Regions from separate parts of the Homo sapiens genome. Here regions 1, 3, 4, 5 and 6 are each reported to be linked to region 2. Evidence: microRNA targets listed by miRTarBase, many of them from high-throughput screens and not tested one by one. Region 2 holds a microRNA gene; each other region holds the end of a gene's coding sequence.
What was found. The annotated mature microRNA hsa-miR-6770-5p reads UGAGAAGGCACAGCUUGCACGUGA and lies in region 2 at 2,738-2,761, shown strand. An mRNA with a match to its seed (bases 2 to 7 or 8) in the 3' UTR can be bound and repressed. Matches are read on the target gene's strand: a 7mer-m8 pairs with bases 2 to 8, a 7mer-A1 pairs with bases 2 to 7 and ends in A, and an 8mer does both.

Region 1: the mRNA of TRIR is a reported target of hsa-miR-6770-5p. Seed matches in the 3' UTR shown: 8mer at 414-421 and 7mer-A1 at 456-462.
Region 3: the mRNA of IDH3A is a reported target of hsa-miR-6770-5p. Seed matches in the 3' UTR shown: 7mer-m8 at 2,905-2,911 and 7mer-m8 at 2,703-2,709.
Region 4: the mRNA of SAMD14 is a reported target of hsa-miR-6770-5p. Seed matches in the 3' UTR shown: 7mer-m8 at 1,026-1,032.
Region 5: the mRNA of WNT8B is a reported target of hsa-miR-6770-5p. Seed matches in the 3' UTR shown: 8mer at 3,446-3,453 and 7mer-m8 at 2,993-2,999.
Region 6: miRTarBase lists LRRC20 as a target of hsa-miR-6770-5p. Seed matches in the 3' UTR shown: 7mer-m8 at 2,387-2,393 and 7mer-m8 at 1,851-1,857.

Annotation. Positions count from the first base shown.
Region 1 is chr19:12,727,078-12,731,161 of GRCh38, reverse strand. It overlaps TRIR (telomerase RNA component interacting RNase), which reads left to right. Exons shown (of 3, transcript NM_024038.4): 3 at 94-522. The coding sequence ends at 201. Among named protein-coding and RNA genes, the nearest start is that of TNPO2, 5.2 kb to the right of the region's middle.
Region 2 is chr16:16,326,573-16,330,673 of GRCh38, forward strand. MIR6770-2 (microRNA 6770-2) reads left to right here and starts at 2,733; the gene lies at 2,733-2,792. It also overlaps the pseudogene LOC131696449 and the pseudogene PKD1P1.
Region 3 is chr15:78,168,803-78,172,903 of GRCh38, reverse strand. IDH3A (isocitrate dehydrogenase (NAD(+)) 3 catalytic subunit alpha) reads right to left here. Exons shown (of 11, transcript NM_005530.3): 11 at 959-3,982. The coding sequence ends at 3,899. ACSBG1 (acyl-CoA synthetase bubblegum family member 1) reads left to right here. Exons shown (of 14, transcript NM_015162.5): 14 at 1,375-4,101. The coding sequence ends at 1,460. Among named protein-coding and RNA genes, the nearest start is that of IDH3A, 21 kb to the right of the region's middle.
Region 4 is chr17:50,109,266-50,113,265 of GRCh38, reverse strand. It overlaps SAMD14 (sterile alpha motif domain containing 14), which reads left to right. Exons shown (of 10, transcript NM_001257359.2): 10 at 218-3,226. The coding sequence ends at 373. It overlaps PDK2 (pyruvate dehydrogenase kinase 2), which reads right to left. Exons shown (of 11, transcript NM_002611.5): 10 at 3,866-3,979; 11 at 1,114-3,309. The coding sequence ends at 3,169. Among named protein-coding and RNA genes, the nearest start is that of PDK2-AS1, 8.9 kb to the right of the region's middle. RefSeq lists enhancers at 98-783, 784-1,469.
Region 5 is chr10:100,482,529-100,486,612 of GRCh38, reverse strand. WNT8B (Wnt family member 8B) reads right to left here. Exons shown (of 6, transcript NM_003393.4): 6 at 2,869-4,084. The coding sequence ends at 3,797. Among named protein-coding and RNA genes, the nearest start is that of WNT8B, 22 kb to the right of the region's middle. RefSeq lists enhancers at 101-876, 36-1,528, 877-1,653, 3,674-4,084.
Region 6 is chr10:70,297,767-70,301,867 of GRCh38, forward strand. LRRC20 (leucine rich repeat containing 20) reads right to left here. Exons shown (of 5, transcript NM_001278212.2): 5 at 1,209-3,742. The coding sequence ends at 3,588. Among named protein-coding and RNA genes, the nearest start is that of NPFFR1, 16 kb to the left of the region's middle.

The sequences.
Region 1 (4,084 bases), not on the chromosome of region 2:
TCTGGGTGACACTGGGAATGGGTCACCTGTCTCAGGGCAGTCCTGACCCTGGTTCCTGGCACCCCCGTCCTAACCCGTATCCCCTTTCCACAGGTATTAACAAGTAAAGGTGACGCGTGGGCCAAGTACATGGCAGAAGTGAAAAAGTACAAAGCTCACCAGTGCGGTGACGATGATAAAACTCGGCCCCTGGTGAAATGACGCCCCTCCCCCACCTGCCCATGGCCTGGGACTCTCTGCGATGTACATAACTATTTAATGCAGCGGCAGCGGCGACAGCCTTCCCTGAGAGGACTTAAAAGCAGAAGGAAACCGAGATGCTTCCCGCAGCCGTGGACGATTCTCCAGGACTCTTTTTTTACCTTGAGCACTTGCCTCGTGAGACTTCATAGAACAGTGGTTTACTGTCCCCCCCTTCTCACCTCCTCATTCTCTCTGGCTCTTTCTGTCTTCCTCTTCTCACCCTCCTCCCTCCCCTTAGCCATCACTTCTGGGAAGTAAAGAACTTGACTTAGTGCCGGAGCTGTGTGCTTGGTTTGTCTTCTTTGCGCTGTCGGACCTAAGCCTTCCCCCTGTTGCTGGCATTGTACCTGTCAAAGCCTGGGCCTGACCCAGTAAGGAGCGGGATATGGAAGGGTTAGGAAGGACAGGGGCACATCCCCTCCTGTAGGCCTGGACTTTCCCCAAGACCTATCTCCCCTCACTGCTGCATCTCTACCGTGCCACCTTAGGCTCACTTTCTCTTCACAGTTCCATTTTGGCTTGGCCAAAGCTGTTGCATTGTGCATTCAGCAGACACTTAGGAGCATCTATTATGTGCCAGGGCTCTGCAAGGCTCTGGGACAACAGCTGGGAGCACGCAGACCACACCCTCCCTGCCCTTACAGAAGGAGACAGACACAAACAAAAAGGGGAAGCCCTTTTGCAGCTAGGGAGGAGGCGGGTATGTCTTTTAGGTGACATTTGATTAGAGTCCTGAGGGAGGTGAGGCAGAGTCCCAGGCAGAGGGAACAGCCAGGTTGGAGACAGCTTGGGCCTGATGGGGGCCTCCTAAGTGAGGAGGATGGATGAATGGATTATGGTGGGGAGAATTCAGGAATTTTTTTTTTTTTTTTTGGGAGATGGTCTCGCTCTGTCGCCCAGGCTAGAGTGCAGTGCTACGATCGCAGCTCACTGCCTCACTGCAGCCTCCACTTCCTGGCCTCCTCCCACCTCAGCCCCGCAAGTAGTAGGGACCACAGGTTCACACCACCATGCTCTGCTAGTTCTTTAATTTTTTTGTAGAGACGGGGTCTCCCTATGTTGCCCAGGCTGGTCTGCAACTGCTAGGCTCAAGCAACCCTCTCACCTCGGCCTCCTAAACTGCTAGGATTACCAGTATGAGCCATTCCTGGCCCAGGATTTTATTCTTTTTTTTTTTTTTTTTTTGAGAGTCTTGTCTCTGACACCCAGGCTGAAGTGCAGTGACGCGATCTCGGCTCACTGCAACATCCACTTCCTGGGTTCAAGCCATTCTCCTGCCTCAGCCTCCCGAGTAGCTGGGATTACAGGTGCCTGCCACCATGCCTGGCTAATTTTTGTATTGTTGGTAGAGACAGGGTTTCACCATGTTGGCCAGGCTGGTCTCGAACTCCTGACCTCAGGTGATCCACCTCGGCCTCCCAAAGTGCTGGGATTACAGGCCTGAGCCACTGCGTTGTGCCCAGGATTTTATTCTTAAGTGAGGAGAAGGCTTTGGGGGGTATTTGAGGTAGCAACATCATACGTTTTATATCTTCAGGGGATCCCTCTGGCTCCTGTGGGGAATAGACTGAAGGGGGCTGAGGGTAGAACCTGGGAGACTGAGGAGGGGAGTGGAGGGGACTGCATCTTGGTAGTAGAGGAGGTGAGGAGTGCTGAGAGCTGGATTCCATGGGGCTGTGTGCTCCACTGGGGGAAGGGCCACTCAGTCCTCTAGCTACTTGAAGCCCTTCCAGGGAGGCTGGAGTCTGTCCCTTCTGTATGCATACACCCTCAAGAGAAAGAGGGCGAGGGGGTTCTCTGTCCAACCTTACAGAACATGATCATTGGCACAGACCTAGCCCTTCCATGCCCTCCTCCTGGCTCCACTGCCCATCCTGTTGGAGCCAGAAGCTGCCTGGCTCCACCTGTTCTCCACCAAACCCACACAGGTTTTAAGATGCCCTTGCCTCCCAACTCCTCAAACCTGCTGGACCTGGAGCAACGTTGGGGGGTCCCCCAGCTATAGGCTCACCCCAGTCTTCCCAGGCAAGAATGGCAGCAGCTGAGCAGCCTTGGCACTCCTACCCAGCTTAGGGCTGGGCCCTCTTCCACTTTCTTTTTTTTTTTTTGAGATAAAGTCTCCCTCTGTTGCCTAGGCTGGAGTGCAGTGGTGAGATTACAGCTCACTGCAGCCTCAACCTCCTGGGCTGAAGCGATCCTCCCACCTCAGCCTCCTGGGTAGGTCTACAGGCATGTGCCATCAGACACGGCTCATTTTTTTTTTTTTATTTTTCGTAGAGACGAAGTCTCACCGTGTTGTTCAGGCTGGTCGGGAACTCCTGGGCTCAAACCATCTTCCCACCTTGGCCTCCCAAAGTGCTGGGATTACAGGTGTGAACCACTGCACCCAGCCCCCTCCTTCCCGTTTTTTTTTTTTTTTTTTTTTTGAGACAGAGGCACACTCCGCCCCCAGGCTGGAGTGCAATGGCGCGATCTGGGCTCACTGCAACCTCTGCCTCCCAGGTTCAAGCAATTCTCCTGCCTCAGCTTCCTGAGTAGCTGGGACTACATGAGTGTGCCACCACACCTGGCTAATTTTTATCTTTTTGGTAGAGCCGGGGTTTCCTGACCTCAAGTGATCTGCGGCCTCAGGGATTACTGGCATGAGCCACTGTGCCTGGCCCCTCCTTCCACTTTCAATCAAAAGAGGACCAAGACTCAGAGAAACACGGCCTCAGCAAGTAGAGGGTGGAAGGCACAGGGCTGTGGTCCTGGGAGTGGGCTGAGGTGGGCCTACCCCGGTACACCACAGGCTCTCAGATTTTGCCAGATGCAGTCTGTGCAGGTTGGGGTGGAGCACTGACTCATGTAACAAATGATGAGCATCTGCTATGTGAAGTCAGCTACCTAAACAGACAAAAACCCTGCCCTGCCAAGAATGGTGGCTCACATCTGTAATCCCAGTGACTGGGGAGGCCGAGACACAGGTGGATCACTTGAGCCCAGGAGTTCGAGACCAGCCTGGACAACACAGCAAGACCTTTCTTGCTACAAAAAATAAAAGTTGGCTGGGCGTGGTGGCTCACGCCTGTAATCTCACCACTTTGGGAGGCTGAGGCAGAAGGATCACTTGAGGCCAGGAGTTCGAGACCAGCCTGGCCAATGTGGTGCAACCCTGTCTCTACTAAAAATACAAAAAATTAGCCGGGCGTGGTGGCGCGCACCTGTAATACCAGCTATTCGGGAGGCTGAGGCAGGAGAATGTCCTGAATCTGAGAAGGCAAAGGTTGCAGTGAGCCAAGATTGTGCCACTATACTTCAGCCCGGGCAACAAAGTGAGATTCCGTCTCAAAAAAAAAAAAAACAAACAGCCTAGCTGTCGTGGTGGCTCACGCCTATAATCTCAGCACTTTGGGAGGCCAAGGCGGGCAGATCACAAGGTCAGGAGTTCAAGACCAGCCTGACCAACATGGTGAAACCCTATCTACTAAAAATACAAAAATTAGCTGGGGGTGGTGGCCCACGCCTGTAATCCCAGCTACTTGGGAGGCTGAGGCAGGAGAATCGCTTGAACTGGGGAGGCAGAGGTTGCAGTGACTACACTCCAGCCTGGGCAACAGAGTGAGACTCCATCTCAAAAAATTAAAAAAAAAAAAAAGAATAGGATACCTTTCCTCTTTCGCTTCCTGCTAACACACAATAAGGTTTTTCTGCTTTACTTTGCATGTGGGCTGAAAGGTCTCTCCCTCCTACTTTGGGGATGCTAAGCTAGCCCAGGTGTGACTTTGGCCTTGGGGGTGGAGTATGGGGGGAGGGAACACAGGAAGCTAATGGAGCCATCCCTACCTCCTCCTCCCCCAAA
Region 2 (4,101 bases):
CTCCCCCCTTTTCTCCACTTCCCTCTCCTCTCTCCCTTCTGCCCTCCTCCTTCTCTCATGTGAAGAGGTGCCTTGTGTGGTCAGTGGGCTGCATCACGTGTTCCCCAGGTGGAGGCCCTGGGTCATGCAGAGCCACAAAAAATGCTTAGTGAGGAGGCTGTGGGGGTCCAGTCAAGTGGGCTCTCCAGCTGCAGGGCTGGGGGTGGGAGCCAGGTGAGGACCCGTGTAGAGAGGAGGGCGTGTGCAAGGAGTGGGGCCAGGAGCGGGGCTGGACACTGCTGGCTCCACACAGGGGCCCAGCAGGGAGCTCGTATGCCGCTCGTGCCTGAAGCAGACGCTGCACAAGCTGGAGGCCATGATGCGCATCCTGCAGGCAGAGACCACCGCGGGCACCGTGACGCCCACCGCCATCGGAGACAGCATCCTCAACATCACAGGTGCCGCGGCCCGTGCCCCACGCCACCCGCCCGCCCCACGTGGCCCGTCCGCCCCATGCCGCCCTTTCCTCTGCCTCCCTCCTCCCCACAACCGCCTCGCCTTTGCCCCATCCCATCTTCGTCCCCCTCCCCTCCCCCCAATTCCCATCCTCATCCCCCTCCCCCAATTCCCATCCTCATCCCGCTCCCCCAATTCCCATCCTTATCCCCCTCCCCCAATTCCCATCCTTATCCCCCTCCCCCAATTCCCATTCTCCTCCCCCTCCCCCTTCCCTATTACCATCCCTTTTCTCCATCTCTCTCCCCTTTTCTCCATTTCCCCCCCGATCCTCCCCGTCCTTTTGTCCATTCCCCTCATCTTTCTTATCCCCCTTATCCTCCTTCCCCTCCCTTATCCCCCTTCCCCTCCCTTATCCCCCTTATCCCCTTCCCCTCCCTTTCACCCTGCTCCTCTTCTTCTCCCCTTTCTCTTTTCTCTACCCTTTTCCTTCCTTTTTCCTCCCTCTCCCCATCATCCCCCTCATCTTCGTCCTCATCCCCATCCCCTTCCCCCTCCCCCTCCACCACTCTCTCTCCAGCTTCCCTCTTCCTTCTGCCTGCACCTCGCTCTCTGCCCCCTCAGGTTCCCCCTTTCTCCCAGTCCCCACCCTCCGGCTCCCCCTTTTTGCCTGCCCCCACCCTCCCTCTGCCTCCCTGTCTCTGCACTGACCTCACGCCTGTCTGCAGGAGACCTCATCCACCTGGCCAGCTCAGACGTGCGGGCACCACAGCGCTCAGAGCTGGGAGCCGAGTCACCATCGCGGATGGTGGCGTCCCAGGCCTACAACCTGACCTCTGCCCTCACGCCCATCGTCACGCGCTCCCGCGTGCTCAACGAGGAGCCCCTGACGCTGGCGGGTGAGGAGATCGTGGCCCAGGGCAAGCGCTCGGACCCGCGGAGCCTGCTGTGCTATGGCGGCGCCCCAGGGCCTGGCTGCCACTTCTCCATCCCCTAGGCTTTCAGCAGGGCCCCGGCCAACCTCAGTGACGTGGTGCAGCTCATCTTTCTGGTGGACTCCAATCCCTTTCCCTTTGGCTATATCAGCAACTACACCGTCTCCACCAAGGTGGCCTCGATGGCGTTCCAGACACAGGCCGGCGCCCAGATCCCCATCGAGCGGCTGGCCTCAGAGCGCGCCTCACCGTGAAGGTGCCCAACAACTCGGACTGGGCTGCCCGGGGCCACCGCAGCTCCGCCAACTCCGTTGTGGTCCAGCCCCAGGCCTCCGTCGGTGCTGTGGTCACCCTGGACAGCAGCAACCCTGCGGCCGTGCTGCATCTGCAGCTCAACTATACGCTGCTGGACGGTGCATGCAGCGGTTGGGGCACACGCGGCCCCCTGGCCTTGTTCTTGGGGGGAAGGCGTTTCTCGTAGGGCTTCCATGGGTGTCTCTGGTGAAATTTGCTTTCTGTTTCATGGGCTGCTGGGGGCCTGGCCGGAGAGGAGCTGGGGGCCACGGAGAAGCAGGTGCCAGCTCTGGTGCAGAGGCTCCTATGGCCTTTCAGGCCCATGGCAGAGGGTGGGCTCAGGAGGGCCATCGTGGGTGTCCCCCGGGTGGTTGAGCTTCCCGGCAGGCGTGTGACCTGCGCGTTCTGCCCCAGGCCGCTACCTGTCTGAGGAACCCGAGCCCTACCTGGCAGTCTACCTGCACTCGGAGCCCCGGCCCAATGAGCGCAACTGCTCGGCTAGCAGGAGGATCCGCCCAGAGTCCCTCCAGGGTGCCGACCACCGGCCCTACACCTTCTTCATTTCCCCGGGGTGAGCTCTGCGGGCCGGCCTGGCAGGGCAGGGCAGGGCATCATGGGTCAGCATTGCCCGGGTTACGGGCCCCGTGGGGACGGCAGGCAGCGAGGGGACTGGACCGGGTATGGGCTCTGGGACTCCGACATCCAACCTGGCGGAGCCTGGGCTCACGTCCACTGCCCCTTCCCTTCCCAGGACCAGAGACCCAGTGGGGAGTTACCGTCTGAACCTCTCCAGCCACTTCCGCTGGTCGGCGCTGGAGGTGTCCGTGGGCTTGTACACGTCCCTGTGCCAGTACTTCAGCGAGGAGGACGTGGTGTGGCGGACAGAGGGGCTGCTGCCCCTGGAGGAGACCTCGCCCCGCCAGGCCGTCTGCCTCACCCGCCACCTCACCGCCTTCGGCACCAGCCTCTTCATGCCCCCAAGCCATGTACGCTTTGTGTTTCCTGTGAGTGACCCTGTGCTCCTGGGAGCCTCTGCAGAGTCGAGGAGGGCCTGGGTGGGCTCGGCTCTATCCTGAGAAGGCACAGCTTGCACGTGACCTCCTGGGCCTGGCGGCTGTGTCTTCACAGGAGCCAACAGCGGATGTAAACTACATCGTCATGCTGACATGTGCTGTGTGCCTGGTGACCTACATGGTCATGGCCGCCATCCTGCACAAGCTGGACCAGTTGGATGCCAGCCGGGGCTGCGCCATCCCCTTCTGTGGGCAGCGGGGCCGCTTCAAGTACGAGATCCTCGTCAAGACAGGCTGGGGCCGGGGCTCAGGTGAGGGGCGCGGCGGGGTGGCAGGGCCTCCCCTGCTCTCACTGGCTGTGCTGGTTGCACCCTCTGGGAGTGAGTCTCGTCGCAGGCGTCAGAACAAGGCAGTTTTTGCAGTGCTGTGTGAAGGGCTCGTGTGTTCATCCTGGGAATGACCTCGTGAGCACTCACTGTCCCTGAGGACTAGGACAGCTCCTAGCTGGAAGTAGGTGCCAGTCAGTCAGGGTGGGCAGCCCACGTTCTACACAGTAGCGTAGCCCCACAAGTTACGTGAGCATCGCTACCACTGTGGGAGACCATGCATCCACCCGCGATCCTGACTGCATAGCTCGTCTCTCAGACGGAGGCGCCAGCACCCTCCCCGTGGCTGTTTCTTCAATACCTCCATTTTCCTTTCTTTGGAATTGCCCTTCTGGCATTCCCTTTTTGTTTTCGTTTTTCTTTTTTTGGAGACGGAGTCTCGCTCTGTTGCCCAGGCTGGAGTGCAATGGCGTGATCTTGGCTCACAGCAACTTCCAGCTCCTGGGTTTAAGCGATTCCCCTTAAGCGATTCTCCTGAGTAGCTGGGAGTACAGGTGCACACCACCACACCCAGTTAATTTTTCACCATGTCAGCCAGGCGAACTCCTGACCTCAGGTGATCCGCCTGCCTCGGCCTGCCAGAGTGCTGGGATGACAGGTGTGAGCCACCACACCTGGCCGTGTTCCCATTTTTTATTTCCATGCTGCTTTCATCTTCATTTCCCAGTTCTTTCTTTTGATTACCTACTTTTAAAAACTGTCGGCCGGGTGCGGTGGCTCACACCTGTAATCCGAGCACTTTGGGAGGCTGAGGCAGGCTAATCACGGGGTCAGGAGATCGAGACCATCCTGGCTAACGGTGAAACCCTGTCTCTACTAAAAAATACAAAAAAATTAGGCCGGCGTGGTGGCAGGCGCCTGTAGTCCCAGCTCCTCGGGAGACTGAGGCAGGAGAATGGCGTGAACCCGGGAGGCGGAGCTTGCAGTGAGCTGAGATTGCGCCACTGCACTCCAGCCTGGGTGACACAGCAAGACTCCATCTCAAAAAAAAAAAAAAAAAAAAATACTGTCACCTGGGTCTGTCACTGGGAGAGGAGG
Region 3 (4,101 bases), not on the chromosome of region 2:
TCTTCCGGAAAGTCAGCTTGTGTGACAAAGGGATAAGGCTGTTCCGGACCACTGCCCACAGAACCAGGAGAGGGCTCTGGTGCAGCCTCAGCTGAAGTCACTCTTGGCTGTAGCCAAGAGATGTTCATGGGATGTTCATAGAACAGGAGAGGTAGAAATGGTTATGCCAGTGTGATTCCCTCAAATCCATCACGGCTGAACCCAGATGCAATTGTCTACAGCAAAGCTGAGCTGCAATCAGAGACCTTGAGCTTATCTGGCTGTCTGCTGCCAGCATATTGAACGCAAGGTCAGAGAGACAGAAGATGTCTTCACTAAGCAGTTAATATAATGACTTTAACACAGAAAGTTTCCAGTTACACAGTCAAGAGTGAGTTAGGCACTTTAAGCTACCCAGGACCTCAAATCAGAGCTCTTTCAAACTTGCTTTTGGGGGATAAATCAAGGTTAAGAAAAGTAATTAGGGGAAGACCTCTCATAAAGACCATGGCAGAGGCTCCCCATAACCTGGGCTTCCCCTACCCCCATCACAACCATCAAAGCATAATGTCCAACGTTGTATAAACGTTCACAAAAATGCAGAGATGATGTGTACTAGCTATCTAATACATTGCTGTGTAACAAATGACCCCAAAAATGTAGCAGCCTAAAGCAGTAAACATTTATTATCCACATTTCTATGGGTCAAGAATCCAGGAACAGCTTAGCTGAGTGGTTCTGGCTTGGGTCTCACGGGATTACAGTCAATGTGAGCTGGGTGCAGTCACTTGCAGCTGAGGCTCACCTCCGCGCTCACTTACGTGGCTGTCGGCAGGCCTCAGCTCCTTGCTGTCTGCTGGCCAGAAACATCCGTGTGTGGCCAGTGGGCCTCTCATGGGCTGTGTATCCTCACAACATGGCAGCCGGCTTGCCCAGGAAGAATGGTCCAAGAGAAAGCCCAAGACAGAAACCTAGTCTATTTTTTAATTGCTTCAACAATTTATTCATTCAAGAGATGGAACAAATAAATCCATTTCAGAGAAAATGGACTGAGGGTCAAAACTGGGTACAGGTCAAGGAAAAGGCAGATGTAGCTTACACTACTTTCCTATGTGTATAAAAGAAACTGATCTTTTATAACCTATTCTCAGAGGTGACATACCAACCCTTCATCTATACTCCACTGGCCACAACCAGTGGTATAACACAGGAGACTACACACAAGCCATATGAATACCAGGAGCGATCACTGTCTTGGAGGCTGGCTACTGACGGTCCTGATTATCTGGCTTAATTCCTGAGTTATATATAGGACTGAGTGTGAGTCTTTACCACACACATTCTCAGAGTTCTCAGAGCCTGGGCCTCACTCATTTCTTCTCATTTCCCTTTTAGGTCCCACGATGAAACTGAAACGGCTCACAGTTTTGGAGAAGTACAAAGGTATCATTGACTCCTTTTACCAAGAGCAAAAAATGTAATCAGGGCCTATGCCTGCAGTTTCTATAGAATAGAGGGCAGGCGTTCCGAGCCTCTTCCTGAGCCCCAGGTCTCTTCAGTCTGGGCACAGGCATTTCTGCCAAGTCTGTTAGATCTCCAGGTCAGGGCACAGCACTGGCTCTACATTTACCAGGTCTTACGCCAACAATAGCTGACAATTCCAAGAAGCTTCACGTGTGGGTAGTTTTAATTCAGTTTAAGTATTGCTTTTTGTTCAGGTGACAAATGAGATCAGCTCTCCTTCCAGAACGAAAGGGCTGATAATTTTTGGCCTTAGTTCCAGGTAGATTAAAAAGCTGCTAGCTCACATACAGGACAGCCAGCAGTAGGCTGTGGAGCGGGTAGGAGAGAGATGGCTGATACTGCTCACGTGCGCTGCAGGAAAAGCAATCAGTCACAACTCACCTAGCGACCTGACTTACTCTGGAATCTTGGCGGGCATCGCCGACCCTATTATTCCATTACCAGGCACTCCGCCACCCACATGCCAACTGACTTGATGCTTAATAAAACTGCTGCTGCCTGTTTGATTCTATTTAATGTATAATTTGAATATTAAACCTTTTAACAGAACTGTCAACAAGGACCTGATTTTTTTTGTCAATTGAGCAGGTGGGACCAGTGCAGAGAGTAGTGGGCATTTAACTCACAGGACTGTGCACAGCGGGCATGCGAGTGACCATTAGTGCCCTGGAATAAACAAAGGTGCAGGATGGGGTCAAGTGGCGCATTCTCATAAAAGCAGCCAGCTCTACGTTAGCCTGTCGCCACCAGACCACCCCACTTCCATTCTGAATACGGGAAGCAGCCATTCTCAGTAGCAAGCTGAGCCAAAATGACCGAAGGCATCTGAACAGGAAACAGGTAGAGAAAGCAAACATCTCAGTTTTGGAATTCTTTATTACTTTGAACCCAAGAGCCACTGATAACTGGCACAATCCAATGAAACAGAGGAAGCAGCAGCTTAAACAAAGGAAAATACATTTAAGATTATAAGTCTGGGGGGGCGGTTACAAGCTTAAAAAGTGACCCAGACAGGGATATCATTGCTAAAAAAAAAAAAATCCCCTTGTGACCTGGGTACATTTTGCAAAGCCACAGGTTTGCAATGTTACACAAGGGCCAAAGGAGGCCATGAGTTGTCTTTGGTTGTGGGGACAGAGGGTAACTGTTCATGAAAATAGTGAGTGTCTGAAGATTAAGAAAATCATGCTGCAGCAGAGGAGAAGGGAGAGGAAGACAGGAAGGGAAAGGAGATGCCTGAGGGTCAAAAGCTGAGCCCAAGCCTAAGCCCAAGCTCAAGCTCAAGCCCCAGCATGGCATAATTTTGTGAATTAACTCAGGCTGAGTTGCCTCCAGTCTTTGGAATGTCATCTTATACTGGTACTGCTGAGGCAGAGGGCAGTAATTGGTGCTTTGGGATAGGAGAAGGGGCAGTTGCTGAAATACAAAATTAATAGCATCCCAAGTTCCTCAATTGCAGCCAAAATACATGTGTTCGGGCCTTTCGGCAGTATCGCCCCCAGAACTACCTGCTGTAGTGTGGTCCATTCCCAGACAGCAACATGCAAGAATAAGTTTACAATACACTCAGCCCTTCTGGCTTCAGATCAGGGGCTCAGAGGCTGTGACAACTCATGATGCTGAAAATGTATCCAGTGAAAATGAAGTACTAGCTCTCTGCTTCATTAAAAGCTCTTGGAAAGAATATTAAATCTCAAGACAACAAAATAATTGAACACACAATACATTTGTGTCTTTGTATCCAATATATTACCTTTGTCTTATTAACAAAAATTATATCTCTCATTATATATTTCTTGGATCTGAAGTTTTTATTCACACTCAGTAATTTCTGTAAAGGACAAATCTGTCTCTATTTTCCATATCATTTAGAAATATACCACATTCACTCTTTTTGATGTGAACTTTCCCAGGAAAATTCTCTTGTGCCCATTTAGTTTTAGAAGAGTGTCATTTTGTGCTATTATGTCAATATCCTGTTTTATTTCCATTATGTTTTTCAAAAACCGAAGAAAATAAGGTTTTTCTTAAAAAGTTAGACATTTTCTCTTGTTAATTCTGTATCCTGTTATTTACAGCTGAAGAGAAACTATTTTAACTTAAGTGTAAAATGGTTTAGAATAGCAAATGATACAGTCCACTCAGAGTTTACAAAAAAAACATTTACCAGGTAGACACTTAATAAATAAAACAAGCACTTGGAAAAAGTTCTTTGAAAACAGACCTAGGGACATCCACCTGCATCTTTTGCACAGATTTTGTTAAGAAAAGGCCAGATCTAAAAATGTACTGTCAAGAAACAAGCAAACCAATGCATACATACGTAGGTATTCTAAACAGAGGTTCATGTGGTGTCCATTTAGAGTGACTGATGTAAATGCCAGTTGTAGAAGTGTTAATCTAAATCTTTTACTCGGCGACAGATTTCCTCTGTGAAGTCTGAGCATTTTGCATTGCCTCCCAAATCTTTTGTCAAGCTCTGAGAAAAGGAAAAAGCAAAAATAAAAGATGTATCCGCAAACTAAACTAAACCAAGGAGATTTTAAAGCCCTCAGTGAGATGCCACCTGGGCAAGTTACTCGGCTGCTCTTTCATTTA
Region 4 (4,000 bases), not on the chromosome of region 2:
TACCCCCAACCCTCATCTTTCCCAACCACACTCATTCCAAATTCTTGCTCTGGGGGTTCTGATCCATGGGCAGGTCACGGTGTGGGAGGCGGAGGCTCCACTCCAGGGAGGATTTGGAGCTCCACAGAGTACACCTGGGGCAAAAGGAGCCTGGGCGTGGGAGGCCAGGACTGGGAAGGTTCTGGGACTCTCTCCCTCACCCCGGACTCCTCCCCAGAGCCTGGGGCTCAGCAACTCTCATGACCGGGCACTGGTGAAGCGCAAGTTGAAGGAGATGGCAGCAGCTGCCGAGAAGGAGCGCAAGGCCCAGGAGAAGGCTGCGCGGCAGCGGGAGAAGCTCCGGCGCCGAGAGCAGGAGGCCAAGAAGAGCTAGGGGAGGGTGCACAGGCGCTGGCACCCGGCAGGGGCAGCCACTGGCTCCGCGGGCACAGGCCTCACCAGGGAGGCTGGACCTGGGCGCTGCACTTGGGCTAGCCTGGTCCCACGCTCTCAGGGGGGACATGCTCTCTCTTACCCTGTCACTTGGTCTAGACCCAGAGACCCCAGAAAGGGAGACCCCAGGGAGAGGGCCTAGTAATAAATCCTATTTTGAGGACTTGTTTGGCACAGAGTTCCTGGGGGAGGAGCAGATGAAGGGGAGAGGGCAGAGAGGCCAGGGCTGAGGCAAGTCTGGGAGGCTGGGTCAGGCTGTCCCATTGCCCTCAGGCCATCGTGGGGCTGGGGTGGAGGGGAGCTAGGAGGCCTGCCTGCCTGCTTGCCTGCCAGAGGCCCTGAGGCCGGGCCCCAGGGCTCAGAGCTGGGCTGGGCATTTCAGCAGGAGCCCATGTGGGAGCGGCTCCTCTCCACTCTTCCAGGGGGCTGTGTGGTGGGAGAGCTCTGTCCTGCTCCCCCAAGAGGCCAGTGGGCGCTGCAGCAAGTCGCACTCAGGGTAGACTCCCAGCCAAACTCCTCAACAGGAGCGCAGAGAAAGCAGCCTGGGGCGAGTGCAGTCTTTGCCAGGACTCAAGAGGGGAGGATGAACATCCCCTTCTCCCTCTCCCCTCCTCTGTCCTGTGGGTCCCAGGGGGCGAGATGACACCACACAGGTCTGCCTCTCAGGGCCCATTCAAGACCTGGTCTTTGACCCATTCTCCAAGCCAGGACTCCCTTCACTTCCTGCTGCTTCCTCAGAGGGCACCTAAGTCCTCTTTGGGAGCTGAGCAAACAGGAACTGATAGGGACAGAGGACACCACTTCCACCAGCCAAGGCCTAGGAGCTGCTGACCTGGTCAGCCCTCACCCCAGCCAGGCAGAGAGGCAAAACCTGGGGGTCCCCGGCAGCTACGAGATTGGAAAGGTTCATCAGCCCTCCCCCATCTGCCCCAGGCATTGTCAGGGAATCAGTGGGCTCAGAACTGGCAGGCGGTGCAAGCTCTGCTTCCCTGGGCCACACTGAGGGCTGGGGCCAGCTCCCTGGATGGGGGTGGAGTTTACCAGCAGCCTGGGGACAGCATGTGTCCTTTTTAGGAAATGTCCTTGGAGGAAGTGTTCATGTGTGGCGCTGGTCAGCAGCTAGTCCCGCTTCCAGGACACTGGTCAGAGTTACCGATGAGGCCTGGGGGCTCCCGCTTGGAAACCCCTCCAGCTCCTCCCATCTGCCCAGACAGAGCGGCAGATGGCACCAATGCATGCTGGCTCCCTCATTCCTGCCCAGGGGCTGTGGCTTACGGCCAGCACCCTGTACCTGGGACTCAGCCCTTATCCCCCCTCTGCTATCTGTGCTGGGAGAGGGGCTTCGGAGGGAAACAGATATGAGGACACTGGCACCATCTGGGCCTGGTGGCAGGGCCATGGGAGGTTGGAAGGCACCCACATCCTTAAAGCCATCAGTAGCTATAGTGGGTGCCCACCTGCATGTGAAGGGGAGGCAGTTCTCAATTTATTTCAATAAATCCTTATGATGTGCCAGTGACCAGAATTTCTGTCTGCTCCAGTTGTTGGGTTGGCCGGACTCTGCTGGGCCCTGAGTATGGTGGGACAACAGGTCTGTCACCAGGTGCTGGGCCATCCGGCGTTCTGAACAGATGGCTTTGCCCAGTGTTTTACTCACAGTCCTGAGCTGGGCCGGACGTCCCCGGTGCGTCATGTGGTGGTCACAGGGCACCGCAGTGTGCGTGTGTACGTGCGCACGTGTGGGTCCCCTCCCCCAGGGATGCAGCCAGGCCAGTCTCATTCAGTCTCCTCTTTACTGTGGGTGTGGGTGTCACTGTCACTGCCACAGCCACTGGGAGGGACACACAGCTTTAACCCCTGTGTGCTTAGGGGAAGGGTGGGGGCATTCAGGGTTATAAAACTAACTATATACACAGAAGGTCCTAGGGAGAAAGCCACCCTGAGCACACATGTCTGGGCACAGTGGGGGCTGGGGGCTGGAGCTCAGGCAGGATGGACTAGGCTTGTGGAGGAGCGGGTGGGCATGAGCATGTGAGGACATGCTGGGAGGGCTCAGGAGGTGGCACAGACATTGCCAAGGCCACTGCAGGGCCTCGAGCAGCTTGGCTGGATGGCAAGCTCTCGGTCTAACAAGGTTCTTCCACTTTAGAGTTGGGCCCTGTGAGAGCCACCCCCTCCGCCACCGACCTTCAAGCCCTGAGCGGAGGGAGAGGCTGCAGGACCAGCCTCATTCCCCACTCACGGGTGTAACTCCTTTCCCCACTCAGTCCCCAGGTCTGGAGGGCACCCACCCTCTTCCTAACACTTCAGCAGGCCAAGGCCAGGGTGCCTTTGTGGGCTGGGGGAATAAGGCAACGGGACATCCACTTGGAAGGCCTGTGCTGTGGAGGGTGCTGAGGGGGACCCAGTACCCCTGGCAGAAAAGTGACAGCCCTGGTCTCAGAGAGGAGGACTGCCATGGGAAAATGTCTCTGGGACACCCCATCAGGGTGGAGACATCCCTAACCCTCAGGCATCGCCCACAGAGATAGGGAGGCCACCGAGGGGTCTCCACAGAGATGGACTGGCACTTAGGGACCATCACAGACCTATCACCGCAGTGACTTCCATAGAGACAGAACCTGGTCATCAGGGAGAACCCACCCCCTGCTCCCCCAGGAGGATGGTGAGGGGCACCACGGTGGGGGGACCCAGAGGCGGCAGTCCGTCCTCTCAGGTGCAGATGCACGGCGGCCCTTAGCTGACGCGGTACGTGGACGTGTTCTTGGGCTCCGTGCTGGGCACACACCAGTCGCCGGCCTCCTGGATGGTCTGGTAGTGGCGCCAGGCTGACTTGTTGTAGACAGGCAGGCGCTCCACCGAGTCCGTGGACAGGGCCTGGGGAGTGTCAGGGTCAGCCCCTCCCACCTCCCTGTGCCTTGTCCACTCCTCAGCAGACCACCCCACCCCAGCTCAGCGGCAGCCCAGCTGCCAGACACGGGGGCCTGGAAAGACCACAAAAGGGTGGTCCCTCCTGTGTCCCGCTCCTGCCCATTCAAGCAAGCAGCTCCCTCTAAGGGAGGGAGAGGGAGGGGGAGGAGGCTGGGCTGTGTGACCCTGAGCAAGTCACGGACTCCGGGCCTCAGTCTTCTCCTCTGAACTGAATGGCAAGACCTAGGGTGTCCCCTTCCTTCTGGGTCTAACAAGTCAAGGGTTCCCAGCACAGGGGTCTTAATCATAGACCACAGACTCCCCTAAATTCCCTGACAAGCAGTGCGTGTCTGGGGGTTGAGGGTTCTTCAGGTTGAGGAACTGTAGCTTTGCTTGGATTCTCAGAGTCTGGGGCCAGGGAAGGACTGGGGGGATGGAAAGGAAAGCTCGCAGCTGGCCAAGGCTGCCCAGGTCCTATCAGCAAAGCTCTTCTCCAGCTGGGCTCTGCGGGAAGGGCCCTCACCTTGAGATAGATGACAGCATCGGTCCCAAAGCCTTCCATGGAGAAGAGCTGCAGGTCTCCCTGGAAGTACTTGGCGTAGAGGCGGGAAATGGGGAGCCCATAACCAAAGCCAGCCTGCAGCGGGGCAGGAAGGCA
Region 5 (4,084 bases), not on the chromosome of region 2:
GGGTTCTATTTTGCCATTACCTTTCTAGTCCTCTTTATTCTTGCTTCCTGCACCCTAGTAAGGCAGGGGAGAGGCTTAGGGAGAGATAAATCAAGAAAGTTAAAGGAAGGTGTCCATTCCCACTGAATTAGGTTCTCTCCTTGCAGCATTTGTGGTCACTCTGCTGGGTGTGTTGAGGGTGGGGGGATTGTCTCCCTTCATCCGTGCCTGGTGTTCAGTTCCAGGGTTTTCCCTACCCCACTTCAGGGCTGAGCTCAGCTATACAAAGGGACTGGGTGTGAAGCCAGGGGATGCTAGCCCTAATCCTGTTGTAGATCCCATCATGTCTGCGGGCTAGATGTGTGTGTGTTTGGGAGGGAGGGATTGTTAGGCAGTATTTGTTTGTAAAGCCACTTGCTCTTCAGATAATACTTGCACTAACTTCTATTGATGAAGCAGTGTGAGCCCTAGCAAAGTCCTTTCCCAAAGTGTCTTTGAAGCCAAGAGCCCATTGAAGGGAAGAAAGGCCGGGAGAGGGGATTAGTTTGTTCAGCAGCTGTGAATTTCAGTGGGAGGTTGATGAACTCCGAAGTCTTTGTTTAAATTAAAGTGGGGGAGAAAAAAGCCGCTGCTGGAGCGAGAGCCCCACTTGGGGCCCTGAACTAACACAAGGAGAAGTCTGAGCTGCAGGGAGCTGTGTACTGACTGCGAAGACTTTTCCCAAACACTTTCGGAAAAGGTGTTGTGAGAAGACAAGGGGGCGGAGTGGCGGATTAGCATGTGAAATGAAGTTTTCATTGACTCCAGTGGGGGTAGAAGGCTATTTTAATGGCATTTTGTTCTCCTATTTTCTCTTCTTGAGCTCTTTAGAGATATTGTTTTGCTAAGACAGGCTTTCTTCCCCCTTCTTTCCAGTCTGAGGATTGCCTCTATGGGAGCCAACATAAATATTTCTCCTCCAGGAATGCGGGTTAATTAAAAGGAAATGAATGAGTGGAAGCATCCAATCCAGACCTACAATAGGCGAGTGCCCTGGCCTGCCCTCCCCTCCCACCACCGCCAGCACCACCAGCGCCGAAGACGACCCCGTCTCTGTCTTTGCCCTAACCTGCTGCTAAGGCCAGTTGAGGCTGCGATTCTTTTCAAAAAGAAAAAGCTCTGCCTGTGTTTAGGCTCACAGGCCAGGGACAGGAAGGAGACAGTGTTTTGCCCACCCCAACCAATGTCCTTGTCACTTCTCAGGGCCTCCCTCTGTTTCTGTCTTCTGGCTGAGACAGATGGGCTCCTGAAGAGCACACAAGAGGTGGAAGGGGCCTGTGCTCTGCACTCTCCCCACAGTAACTTACTAGTTGGGGGAAGAAGCCAGTCATCTTTCTCAGCATCAGTTTAAATCTGTAACACAAAAGGTTTGACTGGCTGACCTCAAAGATGTCTTCCCAAGCACCAGTTCTGGAGTTGTCTACTTTGTAAAGGGACCACGGCCCTGGCAATTGAGTGTAAGATGAGAACTTAAACTCCGTGATGCAGCAATGGTGGTTGTTCACCACTATCTCTACTCTGGTGTTTGTTGAATGAACAAATGAACAAGTGGATATTGCAAAAGGAAGGGAAAAGCAATACAGATCCAAGGCATCTCAGTCATGTTTTCTTGGTAGAACTGGAATGAATCTGGTATCCATTTGGGGGTATAAAACAATAACCTATGAAATAATGTTCTGGCGGCATGACGTATTTAGAGTGCTGACCTGGAGTTACCAAATATGAAGCACAATAGTTCTGCTTTTATGCTAAGAGACCTGGAGAATGTAGCTTTACTTTACAACATTGTGCTTTTAAATTTTCTAGCTGCCTTGCCAAACTTTCTTCGTGTACATTATAAAGTAATTCTGCAAAGTGGGACAGGTAGGTTAGTATATGCTGCTTCTTGATTAAGGAGAAAAGGTGAGTTGGGAGATTCAGGAGGTTCAGATAAAAGCAGAGGGAAGGCGTGAAGGGCCTTTTGCTGAGAAAGCTGGAAATGAAGCACTAAGAACACCTGAAAGGAAGTGTATCCCCGGTCAGGAAGGGGAAACTCTCTCCTCAGTAAGTGTTGGTAAGACCAGAAGGTGTGTGGGTGAGGCCAAGGGTTTGGGATCTGACCTGGCCATTGCCTTAGTTTGGAATACGGGAACCCTTGACTCTTACAGGTGAACCCCTAGAGTCTTGGCTTTTGTTGCCTGGAGCCAGCCACACTGCTTTTCCTACTCTGGGAGAGGAAGGTTGAGGTCGTCTAGCATCTGACCAGTTCTGCTCTAGAAGAGCTGCCCAGCCCCAGACCTGGGACTGTCCTAGGGCAAGGAAGCTGGCTGGGAAGCCCCTTGGGCTACAGAGGGTCTGTCAGGGATTGGTTCTTCCCTCCCCAAGGTCTTGCTCTGTTTCATAAACAAGTCCCTGCTGTACTCTCTGAGAATAAAACCAGAAGACTCAAGTACCACAAGCAGCAAGCTCATGGCTCTTGAGTGAATGTATTAGAAGATTTAAATAGATGATTTACTAATCCTTGGCAGCTTAGCCTCAATCCAGATAACTGCTTGGGCCACCAGGGAAGTGAGGCTTTAGGGAGGATGGTATCCTGCCAAGATGGGAGGGAGGAGAGAGCCTACAGGTTGTATCTGTTACCACAGCCCACCCGAATATCCTCAAGAATAAGTGCAGTACCTAGAAAAAGAGCACATATCACAATGACTGCAATAAATTAAGGTTCAAGGTGCTGAACTTCCTACTAAGCAACAGTTTCATTGCAGGAAGTTTACTCATTGAAGGAAGATATCCAGTGCTCTGAATCCTGCCTGTTTGAGAACCAGGTTAGTGAGAAGGAAGGGTCTCAGTTTCTCCTTCTTAGGACCTGCCTCTAGAGGTGCAGACCAGGATCTGAAGAGGAAAGTGGCTTTATTTACCTCAGTCTTGGCTCAGAGGAACAAAGATCCTTTGGAGAAGAAGAGGTAAAGTTGGTTGCTAGGAGGAAGTAGGTCAGGAGAAGGGAGAAGTTACCTTTAAAGGGTAGGAAATGACTGTAATCTGCCCTTAACGTATTTCCTAGACCTTCGGGGTATGTATCTGGAGTCCCTCGGGTTATTGTCTAGGAAAGTCATTGCCCCACTAGTAAAGTCCATTCATGATATGATACCATAGGGATGAGTAGCACCCTTGGTGTTCAAGTTAGCACTCCAGAGCTCCCTCTTCCATCTTCAACCTCTGCCTCTAGGAACCAACCCCAAAGACATGCTTTTCCGGGGCCAGTTTCCTCAGTTTTTCTGGGAAAGGAAAGGGAGAAGAGGAGAGAAAGCATTCAAGATTCCTGGGGAATCTGGCTCAGCAGGTAGCAGGGGAGGAGCTGTGCAGAAGAGAGGTGCAGCAGTGGGTGAGCCCTGGTAGCAGACAGTGGGCAAAAGGGCAAAGCTTTGACTTTACCTGGGTCCTGCGTGTCTGAGAAGGGTTCTTCCAGCGCCTAAGGCTTGATAGGCTAGGTCAGACATTAGGGCTGCTAGGAGAGGGGAGGAGGAACACCTGTTCTCCTAATCCAAGGAAGATCAGTAACTCAAAGCCTGAGTTCTCAGACCTAGGTGTGGCTGCGAGGATTCAGACAGAGCTCTAGGAGAGCACAGAGGAATTGGGGAAACAGGCTGGAAAGTGGCAAGCTTTGGAGAAATTGCAGTCTCTCCCTCTCAGGATCCCTAGGTCTGGGAGAGCGGGTTCCCCATTCCCTAGGTTCCACAATTACCGGGGTCTCTAAAGGAAGCCAAGAACCAGTGGGAAAAGGAGGGGGCAGAGGAAACCCTTAGGGTTTTCTCCCGGGTTTGTGCGCAGCGCCCCCCCGCGGCCGCTCTGCGCGGCTACAGAAGTACTTGGTGACCCTCCGGCGGCACTGCTCGCAGCGGACTGCGCAGCACCAGTGGAACTTGCAGTTGCAGCTGGACACGGTCTCGGCCCGGCGCTCCTCCACCGCCAGCCCGCAGTCCCCGCAGAGCCGGCGGCAGCTGCGGCGTTCCCAGCGACCCAGGGCCCGCCCGCGCCTTAGGCACTCTCGGCCTTCGGTGCCCAGCAGCCCTAGCGTTTTGTTCTCCAG
Region 6 (4,101 bases), not on the chromosome of region 2:
CACACTTGTAATCCCAGCACTTTGGGAGGCCGAGGCGGGTGGATCACCTGAGGCCAGGAGTTCAAGACCAGCCTGGTCAACGTGGTGAAACCCGGTCTCTATTAAAAATACAAAAATTAGCCATGCATGGTGACGCATGCCTGTAATCCCAGCTACTAGGGGACTGAGGCAGGAGGACTGCTTGAACCTGGAAGGTGGAGGTTGCAGTGAGCTGAGATCGTGCCACTGCACTCCAGCCTGGGCAACAGAGTGAGACTCCGTCTCAAAAATAAAAAATAAAATAAAAGGAATAATGGATCGGCTGGGAGTGGGCTCATGCCTGTAATCCCAGCACTTTGGGAGGCCGGGGTAGGTGAATCACCTGAGGTCAGGAGTTCAAGACCAGCCTGACAAACATAGCGAAACTCCATTTCTACTAAAAATACAAAATTAGCCAGGCATGGTGGTGGGCGCCTATAATCCCAGCTACTTGGGAGGCTGAGGCAAGAGAATCTCTTGAACTGGGAGGTAGAGGTTGCAGTGAGCCGAGATCACGCCATTGCACTCCAGCCTGGGCAACAATAGTGAAACTCCGTCTCAAATAGTAATAATAATAATAATAATTAGAAACAATGGAGCATCTGGACTAAAACTCAAGGCAAACTTAAGCTGGCCTCTCAGACTTAAGAAAAGCAAAACCTGACTTTAACATTGAACCCAGAGCAGTAGTTCTCTAACTTCAGCAGGCATCGGAACCACATGGAGTGCTTGTTAAGAGTGCTGGGCCCCATCCCCGAGTTTCAGATTCTGCACATCTAGGGTGGAGTCAACTATTCGCATTTCTAACTAACTTCCTGGTGCTGCGGATGCTGCTGGCCCAGAGATCCCTCTTTGAGAACCATGGACTCAGAGGAACAAATTACTAAGGGAATAATTTCTGGCACTGGTAAGAGAGAAATGTGGAGATAGTGGGTCTCTTCATCCTTTCCCAGATACACAGTCTCCCCCTGATGTTTAGCCATCCTGCAGTAACGCAGCTGGGGGGCACGCACCAATTCTGCTTGGCTGCACCTGTGCCCACCTGTGAATAATCCACGTTTCATCCCGTTCTAGCCTTCTTTACCTCGTGCTTTCAACAAGAGGGCACCCCTCTTGCATGTGGGCTGGTTTGACGCCCAGGCTATAGGAGGTCTGTACAGTGAGAATGAATCAAACACCAACCAGGCAGATGAAACCAATGCATTCTTTATTGCAGACTGAAGCTTAGGGGCTCACTCACTGTGAGCTCTGATTTGGGGGCATCTGTGGCTGCCCACACTTTCCAAGACAGACAAGGGCAAACTCTCCAAGCAGAGGAGAAAACAACTTCCAGAAGCTGCCCCTTCAAAGGCCTGAGGTGAGGACCTGGGGCAGCAGGCAGCTTGGCATGCAGGGGTTAACCAGAAAGGCCGGGTCTGGAGGGCTGGGCACACCTAACCCTCATCTCCTGGTGACTGCAGGTCACACTCCCTTCTTCAGGAGTGCCATGCAGACTCTGGAACAATCTAACAGGCCAAGTGTCTCCCAGGGTGGGTTAGGGAGGAGGCTGAGCACAGGCTCAGATCCCTGGAAGTGGCAGGGAGAGAACTGAGAGAAACTTCACCCTCTGCTCGGAGGACATCCCCAGCCTAGGTCCTTGCTTCTCAAACTCTAAAGTGCTTATAGGAATCAGCTGGGGGTCTTGCTAAAATGCAGGGTCTGAGTCGGGAGGTATAGGGTGAGGCCTAGACTCTGCATTCCTAACAAGCTCCCAGGTGTCACTGCCGCTGCTGGTCCACAGACCACACTTTGAGTTGCAAGGCTCTGGTCATACATTGTGTTTGTGCACATCAGAGAAGGATGCCTCTTCTTCAACAAGGAGAAACCCCACTCCAGGGCACAAGGCAGGTGGGGCCAGCGCAGCCTGCACAGGACTTCAGCCCCCACTTGCCCCCAACACCCACAGATGAACTCGGTAGCTCTGGAGATCCTGTCTTGACCTCCTCATCCTGAAAACCCTTTGCCCAGAGTTTGACCAACCAGGCCTTGGGATACGAGCAGAATGAACAGAGTCTCTTGAGATACTGAGCGCTCAGTGATGGCCCAACAATGGCCCGACCTATCAGTTCCTTCCCAAGAGACAAGAGACCTGGGCAGGGACGAGGGAACTGGGAGCATTCTGAGCAGGGATTACTGCTCTGAGCAGTGGTCTGAGCTCTCAACATCTTAGCCTTAGGAGTAGTAAAGTGGCCACTCGTCCACGGCACACAGGATTTGGACGGCCTGGCTTTGCCTCAAGCTCTGGGGCCTCAGGTGTCTCTGGAGATGCAAACAAAGATGCAGATCAGGTGGGGTCTGGGGCACTGAGTTGGCTTGCTCCACAGATGAGGAGAAGGTGGGAGGTAGATACCTGAGGACCAAGCAGTCAAGGTTCTTCAAGCCACAGGCGTTCTCGGGAAGCAAGAGCCCCAGGCCCTCTCCTGGTAGGGGACCAACCATCCCCACTTGCTGGGTACTGTCCCAGTTTTAGCATTGAAAGTTCCATGTCCTGGGAAACCAGGACAGCTGGTCACCCTGTTGCCTGACCATACCCTAAGATGCCAGGTTGAGGGCCTCAGAAGAACCAGGTCATCAGGGCTTTGGGCGTTGGCCTGGGAGCTGGCTGGCTACAAATCCCGTGGTCCACATCGCCTTCTGCCCCCAGGAGGCCATGACAAGGCAGCCAGGCTGCTGCTGGACTGGACAGTGGTGAGGGTGGCCATCTAATCACTTTAGACAAGAGCTGCAGGTGTAACTGACTCTGCTGTTCTCTGGGCCACCTCTCCCGCAGCTCAGGAGTGATGCTAGAGGGACGGAGCACTCAGGACTTCCCACCCCGCCAATTTGTTAACTGTGGGGAATGACAGAGCTGACGTGACTTGCTCCCCATTCCCAGCCTGCTGGTCCTCGGGCTCCTACATGAATGTTCTTGCCCTGCAGCAGTGCCAGCCCATATTCCCACCACAGCTCTCCCAGGACTCCTAGTTCAGGTTCCCACCAGTCCAGGGACCACAGGACTGAAGACTGGGCCCTGCAGAGGGCCGCATCCAGGTCAGTTCTCAGGAAGCAATAAATAGATGGAGGTTGTCTTCTCTTCTCAGGGCAGCAACTGGCTCTCAGCACTAAAAACAAGGCCTCAAACCCGCAGGGGCTCAGAAAATACCTGGCAATGCCCACCTGTGCCTGCTGATCTGGAGGTAACTTGGAGGCACGTACTGCTTAAAAACCTCCAGGGAGCCCAAAGGAGGGAAAGGGTCCTGTTTTTTTCAAGTGACAAGGCTCAGAGAGGGCAGGAGATCTGCCTGAGTTTGCACAGCAGCTGTGAGTGCCGAGTCCAGGCTGCAGGCCCCACCTTGCCTCTTCCCTTGGGCATTCCAGAGCCCACTACTGCTGTAAGCTATCTATCCAGACCAGCTGCACCCCACCCACCACGTGCTGCTCGGCCCACCCGCCCCCAGCCCCCAGGCTTGGCCTCCCATGGGCCTCCCTCCCTTCCAGGGTTCCAGGCCTGTGGCCTCTGCCCCTTGCTGGGTGGGCATGAGGAGGGTGGCCTAAGGTAGGGGGGCTCTTGCGCCTTCCGGAGACATGAGCATGTCAAACTTGATGAGCGGCGGGGCGATCACGCGCACCTCGGCGTTGAGTGGGTTGAAGCGGAGGTTGATGCTGCGCAAGGCTGGCATGGCGGCCAGCTTCTCCACGGGCACATCTATTGGGGACAGAATGGACAGGTTAGAGTGGTGGAGGCCAACCAGACAGAAAAGAAGGACAATGGGCCATGAGGACTCTGAGCACCTGATGGTGAGGGGCAGCTCTCCATTGCCCACTGCACGTGGGCTCAGCTCCTGGTGCCCAGCCCTGTGCAAAGGGCCATCGGGCCCACCAGGATATAACAACCACATGGAGGAAAGCATCCTTAAAAATAAGAATCAACTGCTTCAAAAAGTTAAACGTAGGATTGCCATACAACCCAGCAATTTTACTCCTAGGTAGAACTGAAAGAATTAAAAACAGGCATTCAAACAAATAATTTTACACAAATGTTCATAGCAGCACTATTTATAATAG